Homo sapiens: one gene and its partners. The protein of the gene in region 1 purifies or fractionates together with the protein of each later gene. This does not show direct contact. Each region holds a gene or a part of one and is shown on either strand. Other genes may lie near its edges. The genes, in order: PPM1K, BCKDHB and BCKDHA.

Region 1 (3,654 bases):
AAATTTTGTAGTAAGTGCAGTTTACCCTCTCCAGTTTCTTTCATCTTTTCTCTTTTAGTATTAACCCCTTTCCCCTCTTCTTGAACCCTTCCTGTGAGGTGAAGGACTGTGGCTTATTCATTTTTGAATCTCCAGTGTGCAGCACCCTGCATAGAACCTGGCAGGTACTCAATAATTATTTGGATTGAACTGAGATCTCCACGCTGACTCTTTCTCACTGAAGTTACTGTAATTTTTTCTTTGATTATCATATAGCTGATTTAATCAAATTATTATAAAATGTTTGCATTTTAATGAGCTGTCACTCCTGGGTGGATTTGAATTTTAGTTAGCAGACACCTGAAAAAGGCTTAAACCATAGAAGTGAATTACTAATGGTGAGATTTTAGGTATAAAAGAGAGGCGTGCCGCTCAGTCCTACTGAAGCAGCATTGCTCGTCTGGCGTAATACTTGAGTTTCATTGTCTCATACCAAGGAAATCAAGGACGAGGACACACAAGGAGTGAGGTTAGGAGTGGAGACTTAATAGGTGAAAGAAAGAGAAAAGCTCTCTCCTGCAAAAAGAGGGGTCCCAAACAGCTTTCTAGTCCATGGTGAAGTGCAGGAGGCTTTATGGATGAACTTGAGGAGGCAGTGTCTGATTTACATAGGGCATGAAAGATTGGTTGGACCAGATGTGCCATTTGCATAGCACACGAAAAACTGATTAGGCCTAGGTGTGCAATTTGCAGAGCATTCAAGAATCTGGCCACCCCCACCCTAATCTTTTATTATGCAGATGGGTTCTCTACCTGGCCAGCGCCATGTTGCCCATTTCTTTACACATGGTGACAAAGAAAAGGGAAGATGGAACATATTGAACATGCTTGGCCCCAGGTAGCCCTTTTCTTTTTCTTTTTTTTTTTTTTTGAGACAGTTTTGCTCTAGTCTCCCAGGCTAGAGTGCAATGGTGCAATTTCAGCTCACTGCAACCTCCACCTCCCAGGTTCAAGTGATTCCCCTGCCTCAGCCTCCCAAGTACCTGGGATTATAGGCGCCTGCCACCATGCCTACCTAATTTTTGTATTTTTAGTAGAGGCGGGGTTTTGCCATGTTGGTCAGGCTGGTCTCTAACTCCCGACCTTGGGTGATCTGTCCGCCTTGGCCTCCCAAAGTGCTGGGATTACAGGCGTGAGCCATTGTGCCCAGCCCAGGTAGTACTTTTCTATTGGCACAGCTGCTGGCATTCACCTGTGCAAGCTTCCAGCTTGCTTATTTATGTTTGCAGCTCAATTTTTCAGGTTGCTCTTTGTTAGAAAAGAAATGGTTTGGAGGCTGCTTTTTGTTAAAAGGGAAGCCTTGCCACGGACTCCTTTACCCTCACTATGTGCCTACATAATTTATTTCTAGCTCCTGTATCAATACCATATTAACTTTCTTAAGTGAAATTAAAACATTCTTATCTCCTCTCAACTTCAGTTCCAAAGCTGTTACAGCTACATAAAGAACTTCAAATTATCTTACTAACATTTAAAATATTTACTGTTGAATGGCATTGCTGTTGCCTGAGCAAGTTCACACTCAAGTTACACTTAGTGAGAGCTCTTTTCTGCCCGGCATGTGTGAGTTCAGCGTGGGCAAGAGACTTTTATGTGCATTCAGTCCTTTCAGAAATGAGACGATGCCAACCACAGACGCAGCATGTCCTGGATGACTGATCTGTAAAATATAATAAAAGCTTATTGTTTGAGTAGAAAATAAAATAAAATAATTTACTGTTGTAGCTGGGGATATTTTGAAAAGAATAAAATCAAAATGCCACTTATCAAGAAATGGCAAGAACAAGATTCCCTTGCCCTTAAGAAATTGTCAGCTATTTTTATTGCTTTTTTGTTAATGCATTTTCAACCTGTCCTTAGTTATCAGTAGCAAATTTCATCACCATCTTTTAATTTTTTTATTCAATTTATACCAGTAATGTCTACTTTTACAATTAATAAAAGCAGCCAGTAAATCCGGATGATATCCCACCAGTCCGTTGTTTATAAAGAGATAGCCACTTAGAACAAACTAGATGGTAGAAAATTAGGTTATAATTCTATATTTCCTATAAGCTCTTCAGAGTGTTTCCAGATTGCTTAAACTTTGAAAGCAACAAAGCTCCGAAAGGGACAAATGGAACAAAAAGAGAAGACTTGCTCAGACATTCAGAGTGGGGGACATTGATGGCATTATGAGTCTCACCAGAAACTTTTATGTTCTTCATATCCTGTGACCTCTTTATGGAAGAATTAAACTACAAAAGAACCAGGGCTGTAAACACAGCATTTTTGAATCCCCTATGCCGGGACAGCCAAAAGAAAAAAAAAGAGAGCATTGATGAGATGTTCTTACCGTGCTGCTACTGCTTCAGCTCATTACTTTGATTTTGGTGTTCATGAGTCATGAGTCTAGAACACCCATTTTTAATAAATATTGAAACTGTATTGGTTTATACATAGTATTATTTACACAATTGAGTAATTACTAGGGGTCATTATACTTTGAAAAGTATAGCTTTTGCTCTTTATGTTGGCATTCACAATCTTGATCATTTTTCTTTTGATGTGTCGGCCTGCAACACTGGGGGAAAGAGAGAGCTGCAGAAATACCCATTTTGTGAATTATACAAAATTATAAACATGCGTCTCGCTAGCCTTTATTTAAGCAATGAATTTAAATTAATCATTCTACTCAAAAATGCCTTATAGGTACTAAGTCTCTGCATTAAGCACCATTAACAAATGCATTACTCTATGTATCTTGTATAGCGGGTGCTTTGATTCCTTCTTGATATATATTTAAGTCCCAGTAATTTGGTGGTATACTGTAGTTTACATCCTGCTTGTCAGATACAAATTCTTCCATGCTGTAACTGTAGATTTACCTTTCTATTCTTGAGACAATTCTGATATTGCTACCAAACAAATTTACAGTGCATTTTTTGTAACTCAGTAAAGGTAGTGATTTACTGTGTTTAAGACCAATTATTTCAGTGAATGTGTATATGCGTGAGTGTTTTTGTGAGTGTGTTAAATGTAGGTCTGTGTCACCATTTATGTGTCTTGGTACAGATACTTTTTTATATAGTTTTTTCAACCTTAGAAACCACAAAATTAAGAAAGAAGTGTTACCCTGTGATGAAAAAATAGGCTCAACTACAAAATACCATCAACTGGAACAAACTGAGTTTTGGAATAATTGATTTGGCATCTCCTGGAATATTATATAATTTGCTAGTTAAATTTTCACCAAAATAAAAAACCCTTCCCTTATTTTGCAGCTCTTTCTCTGCTCTCCCCTGTGTTGCAGGTTTGTAATGTTTGAGCACAATTCCTGGGTGAAATTCGTATTTGCCTCTGTGCGTGTTATTTGTGGCAGAGAACTGTGCCTGGTCAGCAGCTCTAGACCTGGAGCCCGTGGACACTATATGCGGGGCTTCAGTGGAAAGAGAGATCTGCTTAATTTTGTCCCAGGTGAAGGAGTCCAGCGGTTCCTATCCTGGACTACGGGAAGGTTCCCACATCTCTTTGTCCCATTAGTTGAGATGACTTGCAGTAGAAATTGTCCAGTGAGTGTTAAGAACTTATTGAAAGATGTCTTAGTTTTCTAGTTTTGTTGTTAGGCAAAAAGTG
Region 2 (3,654 bases), on another chromosome or scaffold:
AGGAATCAAGGTATGTTCATTTATGTACTTTATTTGATTTCTATTTGATGTTTCCATTTTGATTCATTCTATTTAATATCTATGCTTATCTAGAGGAAAGAAAACAAACAGGATTCTTGGAATTTATGTGAACTTAACTGTATTTAAGAAGGGGAGGTTAGCAGTTCTTTTAAGTATGCTATCCAATGCCCAGTTTTACAGCAAGTTCTTTTTGAAGGAGGACTGGTTTTATAAACTCTGGCATTGATTAATTTTATAGACTTCAAAGAATAAGACCAAGAACATAGTTGGTTTACCTCCCCTCTCTTTCAAAGCTTTATATTTCTTTCTAACTTAAGTCTTTCTCACTTAACTGATGATGGGGTGATTTTAATAAATCTTTTGTTTAGTCTGTATTTACCTCAAAGTCACAGGGATAACACTTTTGCTTTTAATGTATTTCTTACTTGTTAAAAAGACTAAGAGAAGACTGTTACCTAGATTTTTTTTTTCTGTTTAAAGTTAGGTAATACTTGCTCAACCAATTAATTTTGAAGCATCTCCTTTTTATAACCTGTCTTTCACAAAAGCTTAGGTCTTTTGATGGTAAAAATATTTTGAGTTTTTTATGTCTTAATTTTTTGTATTATCTTTTCTGTTTCTGTTTACTGAATAAGCTTTTCAGGGGATCATTGTAGAAACCCATAGATGTGTGAATCCAGAGATGTATATTTGTTTTTTGACCACATGAATTGATTGTGAGCATGTGTCTATGTTTTATTCTTTTTTTCTTATTTGTTTTTTCTACCAGATCAAAGTTATAAGCTTATCTTAGTTGAGTAGATGTTGCCTGATTTTTGAATGTGAGCTAGAAGTTGTAGACTGGGAAAGAAGCCATGTGCGAGGCAAGTTATTTTTGTGCTTGAGCTAAACATTAATTCACATTTAATATTTATAACATTATATTGTTTTTAAGAACAGATCTTTTCTGTCTGTCCCCTGCCTTCTCTTTTCCTCCTTCATTTTCTTTCTTCCTCTTCCTTTTTCCTTTTTTTTTCAGCTGAAATGAAAATATACTTAAAGTACAAAAGGCTAATATGAAGAAAGCAGATGAAGGGAACTTAAAAAGTAGGAACATAAGATAAAGACATTGTGTGATATGGTTATTAATGTGTTCAGAGGTCCAGAACAGAAAATAAAATTTTTTATACAGAAAATAGTGACATTTTTGCTGCTCTTTTATTTTTAAAATAAAACCCTTCAATAAAAATGGCATAAAAATGGCTTTGAAAGCCAAATATAGTTTGCCTCAGGGAATCTTAAGTCTTTGTGGTAAGTTCAGGTTTATTTTAATAACTCTTCCTATATAATATTTGTCTTTAAACAATTATAATCATTTAAAATTAGACAAAGTTTGTGATTTAAGTCAACATTAGATAGAAGTTAAGAGCTTGAGCTTTGGTATCAGTGGGAATTGGGTGAGACTCTTTGATCAAGCAAGTCGTGTGACCTTAGGCAAGCTACTTGTTCTCTCTAAACCTCAGTGTCTATTTCTAAAATGAGGAACATTATAATAGCTACCTAGTGGGGTTGCTATGAACAGATGAATTAATTCACAGAGTGCTTGGCCAAGTTTACACGTGTACTTCCTACTGTCATTATCATCTTCCTTGTCATCACCCTCATTCTCGAGAAGGTCCTGGAGCCCTTTCCTGTGAGTGGAAGTGTGGACTATCCACACTTTTGTTTTTGCTTTGCTATATAACTGGACACTATGGTGCCTGGACTGTAAAACTCAGTGGACTAATTTTTCACTTATGAAATGAAGACCATATTTTTTTTCATGGGAAAAGAAGATTTTGACATGTTAAAACTGGAGAAGAGAGTTGCATGTACTTTGAAAGTAGAAACAGATTATTAGTAGAAGAGATTTCTTCATAGATAAACACAGGTAGATATTAACAATATTACAGTTTTTTGCTTTGATGAATGATCTTTGCATATTCTTTTTATTTTTTTTATATAGGCAAGTTTAGCTTCTTAAGAGTAGTATCTTAGTTAACAGAACATGGTAGACATCTGATAAATATCTGTTGAATAAGAGGCATTTTTATTTTTATATAATATGTAAACTTAATAAGTGATAATTAGGCTTAAAATAAATAGCCAATATCTATTTTTAATTAGTAACAATTGATTATTTAAATATCAGCCCTTCTTAGCAGCGAGTTTACTGGGATATATTTTTACTAAAATTGTCTTAAAAAAATCTGTTTTTGCAGGTGGTTATACCCAGAAGCCCTTTCCAGGCCAAAGGACTTCTTTTGTCATGCATAGAGGATAAAAATCCTTGTATATTTTTTGAACCTAAAATACTTTACAGGGCAGCAGGTAAAGATTTTCTTTATTTTATATTTGTGAATATCTTTATATACTTTGTTTTTTATAGCTCTAAAAGTTATATCTTTTTTTTCTATATGGTTGATTTATATTTTCCTTGTAGAAAGAATCTTGATTTTTTTGGTATTTAGTTTGTCCTCAGGTGTAAATTTTATGTTTGGGAAAAATTCATCTAGCCATTTTATATTTTGATTGTGGAAACAAAGAGGAAATCTGAAGTGGTAGCAACAATAAAGGGACTATGTTTAACCACATAGTAGGTGCTTAGTAAATATGGATTGAACAGAAAAGTAAATGAGCTCATTTTACTAAATAGTATATGTTTCCTTTTAACTAAAGTGACCATAAAGGTCTTCCTTCATTTAAATCAGGATACCTTTGACTGTGAAGGAGGTGCTGTTAACAATTATGCTGTGCTGTCAGGTCTATGCTGGGATGACTGTGTAAAGCAAACTAAGGTGTTTGGTCATCCTCTTTTTAGCTCAAAATCCTGATTTTATAAACATACATCTGTGACTGCTAATTTCTTCACTGTAATGGAAATTTTAAATAGCAAATGATTTTTTTCTGTCTAAAGCATTTTAATCACTCCTGGAAGCTTCTTCCTCACTCTTCACAATGGATCCATTCTCCCTATGCCAAAAACAGCCACTTTCTGATTGCCATCAGATTAGGTGTACATGTGTTTGGGCTTCATATAAATCCATGCACACTGCATATGTTCTTTTGTGTTTGCTTTCTTTTACTCAACCTAATGCTTTTGAGATTCATTCATGTTTTTGCTTGTATCAGTAGTTTATTCACTTTTCTTTGCTGAGTAGTAGTCCATTGTATGAATATCTGTTGTTCATTTCTATTACAATAATATTACAATTTTGTACAATATTAGAACATTTCTACTTAGTAAGGAACATGGTCATTATATTGGATGAATATTCACTGTTCATTTCTATTACAATAATATCTTACAACTGTACAATATTAGAACATTACTACTAAATAATGAACATTGTCATTACATCATACGAATATTCATTGTTCATTGATAGTATTATTACTACTAAGTAATAATAATTTTTCTTGTTATTCTTATTTTTCTAAGTATTCTAGTTACTAAGGAAAGTAGCTTGGCCCTCTTCATCAAGGTAATTTTTTGTGAATAGTATTAGCATATTGCAACTATGTTTCTGGAGCCAGCCTGCCAATAAATGCTTCTTGGCTGTGGGGAAAAGAACACCCAAAAATCTGAGGCGTGTACAGTATTGTTTAATAAGT
Region 3 (3,654 bases), on another chromosome or scaffold:
GATGTAGTCTTGCTCTGTCACCCAGGCTGGAGTGCAGTGGCACAATCTCGGCTCACTGCAAGCTCTGCCTCCCAGGTTGACGCCATTCTCCTGCCTCAGCCTCCCGAGTAGCTGGGACTACAGGCGCCCGCCACCACGCCCGGCTAATTTTTTGTATTTTTAGTAGAGATAGGGTTTCACCTTATTAGCCAGGATGGTCTCGATCTCCCGACCTCATGATCCGCCCGCCTCGGTCTCCCAAAGTGCTGGGATTACAGGCGTGAGCCACCACGCCCAGCCTAATTTTATTTATTAATTTATTTGAGATGGAGTCTCACTCTGTCACCCAGGCTGGAGTGCAGTGGTGCGATCTTGGCTCACTGCAACCTCCACCTCCCAGGTTCAAGCGATTCTCCTGCCTCAGCCTCCTGAGTAGCTGGGACTATAGGTGCGTGCCACCACGCCTGGCTAATTTTTGTATTTTTAGTAGAGATGGGGTTTCACCATCGTGATCAGCCTGACAGGCTGGTCATGAACTCCTGACCTTAAGTGATTCACCTGCCTCAGCCTCCCAAATCTGCTGGGATTACAGGCATGAGCCACCGCACCCAGCCATATTATTTCTGTATTTTCATTTGGCTTACCTGTCAACTTGACACTTTTTTGTTTTTTTAGGCTAGTCAGGTGAAGCAATGTGAGTAAGATCACCTGTCTTGATTATAACTTGTGTGTTCAGTGTTTGTCATTCATCCCTCCCTGTCTCTAGCCTTCAGTTCAGGGCATGATTTGGAGCAAATGTTCAGTATCTGTTTAACAAGAACAATCATGAGAAATACTTACTCACTACTTGTGTTTATGAAACATTATGTGCCAGGCACTGGGCTGAGCAATCCACACAGGTCAACTCGGTTAATCCTCATGACAACCCCTGAGATAAGTACTTATACCACCCTCGGTGTACACAGGAGGAAACTGAGGCTCAGGGAGTTTTTCTTTAAAAATTTTTTCTTTTTTTTTTCCTTGAGACAGGTCTTACTTTGTCACCCAGGCTGGAGTGCAGTGGTGTGATCTTGGCTCACTGCAGCCTCTTGGGCTCCAGCGATCCTCCCACCTCAGCCCCTCAAGTAGTTGGGGAGTACAGGTGTGCACCACCATGCCCAGCTAATTTTTTGTAGGGATGGGGTCTTGCCATGTTATCCAGGCTGGTCTTGAACTCCTGGGCTCAAGCGATCCTCCCTCCTTGGCCTCCCAAAGTGCTGGTATTACAAGTGTGAACCACCACACCTGGCCTTAAATTTTATTTATATATTTATTTTTGTAGAGACGAGGTCTCACTATGTTTCCCAGGCTGGCCTCGAACTCCTGGACTCAAGTGATCCTCTTGCCTCAGCCTCCAGAGTAGCTAGAATTACAGGCGTCTGCCACTGCACTTGGCTCAGGGAGTTTAAGTCACATAATCAGGCAGCGGTCTGCTCAGTTAGAGTCCATGCGCTTAGCCATGGTGCCTTCAAGTGACTCCACCAGGGTCACCCCAGTACTTCCTGGGCAGACCAGACCATCCAGAGCGGGCAGGTTGTGCTTTCCTGCATGGTGGGAGAGGACGTGGCATGAAGCTTTGTGTAAATCTGTGCAGCCTCTGCCATTGTAAATCACTGGCCACCGGGACAGACTCCCCCACCCCCTTCCAAAAACTAGAGGAACAGATGGGTGGAGTCGCATCCTTCCTCTGCAGGCATTTGGCCACCCACTCCCATTATGGAGCATTTCCTCAGGACCAGGCACAGCGTGGAGCCCTTTGCATAGCTCACTGAATTGGGGCAGCAACCCTGGGGCTGGGGACTACCATTATCTCCACCAGCCCAGCAAAGAGGGGAGGAGGGTACAGCCGAGACCCAGCTGCAGTATGTGGAGCACACTGGGGTGCCGTGAAGATAGCTGTCCAGCCTCTAGAGGCTGACAGTCCTGCCCTGACACAGTGGTTTGTTCTCAGACTCTGGCCTCCCCTCTTAGTGCCCGTCTGAAGACTTCAGCCTTCGGTCCTCTTCCATCAGCATGCCGTCTCCCCTGTGCCTCAGTCTCCCTCTCTGGAGTATCTGCTGGGGCCACAGTTTGGTTTTATTGTTCTTTGAGACAGGGTATCACTTTGTTGCCCAGGCTGGAGTGCAATGGTGCAGTCATGGCTCACTGCAGCCTTGACCTCCTGGGCTCAAGCCATCCTCTCACCTCAGCCTCCCGCAACTCCAGTATCTGGACTACATGTAAATGCCACCATTCCCAGCTAATTTTTTTTTTTTTTTTTAGATAGAGTCTCACTCTTGTCACCCAGGCTGGAGTGCAATGGTGCCATCTTGGCTCACTGCAACATCCGCCTCCCAGGTTCAAGCCATTCTCCTGCCTCAGCCTCCCAAGTAGCTGGGATTACAGGCACCTACCATCATGCACGGCTGTTTTTTGTATTTTTAGTAGAGACAGGGTTTCACTATGTTGGCCAGGCTGGTCTTGAACTCCTGACCTCAGGTGATCTGCCTGCCTCGGACTCCCAAAGTGCTGGGATTACAGGCGTGAGCCACCACGCCCAGCCTTCCTGGCTAATTTAAAAATTTTTCAGAGACGAGGGTTTTGCCTAGGCTGGACTCACTATGTTGCCTAGGCTGATCTCGAACCACTGGCCTTAAGTGATCCTCCCACCTCAGCCTCCCAAAGTACTGGGATTACAGGCATGAGCCGCTGCACATCGCCACAGTTTGATTTTAGTATCCACTTTAAGGTGCAGTTAGTTCTTCCCAGCTCCTCTTTTCCCTATCTCATACAGTGTAGTCACTTCCCTTTCTCCCACTTCTCACCTTCCTAGATTTTGTTTTTCTCTCTCTTACCAAGTTTTGAGTATGTAATACGTCCCAGATCGGTGCTGAACCCCTGGTGTGAGTTAACTTAGCAACTTTTCACGTGGTGTTCTGCAGCCTTCTTACAGATAAGGAAATTCAGAGAGGTGAAGTGTTTTTGCAGAGAGCCACACAATGAGCTAAGAAATTAGAACCCAGGGCAGTTGAACTCCAGAGCCAGGGAACTTAACAGCCCATTCATGCATTCACTCAGGAATTCCCTCTTGAGTGCCTGCTGTGAAGGCAACCTGGACGCTGTCTCTGCCTTCCTGGGATTGTGGTGTGTGTGGGAGACAGACACGAAACAAAGCAATCTTCTAGGTCAGTGTCTGGCTATGCTGGGTACTCAGAAGGGGGAAGCACTGTGCTGCAAGAGGCCGGCTGTTTCCTCCTCACAAGGGGAGGCCTGCAGTGACATTGCCAGGCCTGAATCTGCCCTGCCATTGGGAGTGTAATTTCCTCACGACTACAAATGCAAATAAATACACACACTGAACATGCTACCCCGCTAGAACTGTGGACAGCTTGTTCACTGCAGTTAAAGGAAGACGGAGGGACACATTTGAGCACGCATGTGTGAGATCCAGCTTGTGGCAAACCCTGCCATTCTTTAACATCTGTGGGAAGTGAAGCCACCATTACTGACCTCGGAGGAATCCCGGGAGTAGTGGGAAGAAAAGTTGCAGATGTTTGAAAATCAGGCTGCAGGGGCAGTTGGGGTGAGGAGCATGGATGTCTAGGAGCCTGAATCTCAGCGTTGGAAGCCCAGTTCTGATGTAATTTTTTTTTTTTT

The links.
Region 2: the proteins of PPM1K (region 1) and BCKDHB purify together in Homo sapiens (affinity purification with mass spectrometry; 5 studies listed by BioGRID and IntAct, with this or other methods). This does not show direct contact.
Region 3: the proteins of PPM1K (region 1) and BCKDHA purify together in Homo sapiens (affinity purification with mass spectrometry; 6 studies listed by BioGRID and IntAct, with this or other methods). This does not show direct contact.

Annotation. Positions count from the first base shown.
Region 1 is NC_000004.12:88,270,936-88,274,589, reverse strand, and holds part of PPM1K (protein phosphatase Mn(2+)-dependent 1K), read left to right. Parts: intron 1-135; coding exon of another isoform or gene 136-164; intron 165-3,302; coding exon of another isoform or gene 3,303-3,495; intron 3,496-3,654. UniProt on the Homo sapiens protein: Serine/threonine-protein phosphatase component of macronutrients metabolism.
Region 2 is NC_000006.12:80,169,021-80,172,674, forward strand, and holds part of BCKDHB (2-oxoisovalerate dehydrogenase subunit beta, mitochondrial isoform 1 precursor), read left to right. Parts: coding exon 1-10; coding exon of another isoform or gene 11-37; exon of another isoform or gene 38-1,196; intron 1,197-2,261; coding exon 2,262-2,370; intron 2,371-3,654. UniProt on the Homo sapiens protein: Together with BCKDHA forms the heterotetrameric E1 subunit of the mitochondrial branched-chain alpha-ketoacid dehydrogenase (BCKD) complex.
Region 3 is NC_000019.10:41,404,310-41,407,963, forward strand, and holds part of BCKDHA (2-oxoisovalerate dehydrogenase subunit alpha, mitochondrial isoform 1 precursor), read left to right. Parts: intron 1-3,654. UniProt on the Homo sapiens protein: Together with BCKDHB forms the heterotetrameric E1 subunit of the mitochondrial branched-chain alpha-ketoacid dehydrogenase (BCKD) complex.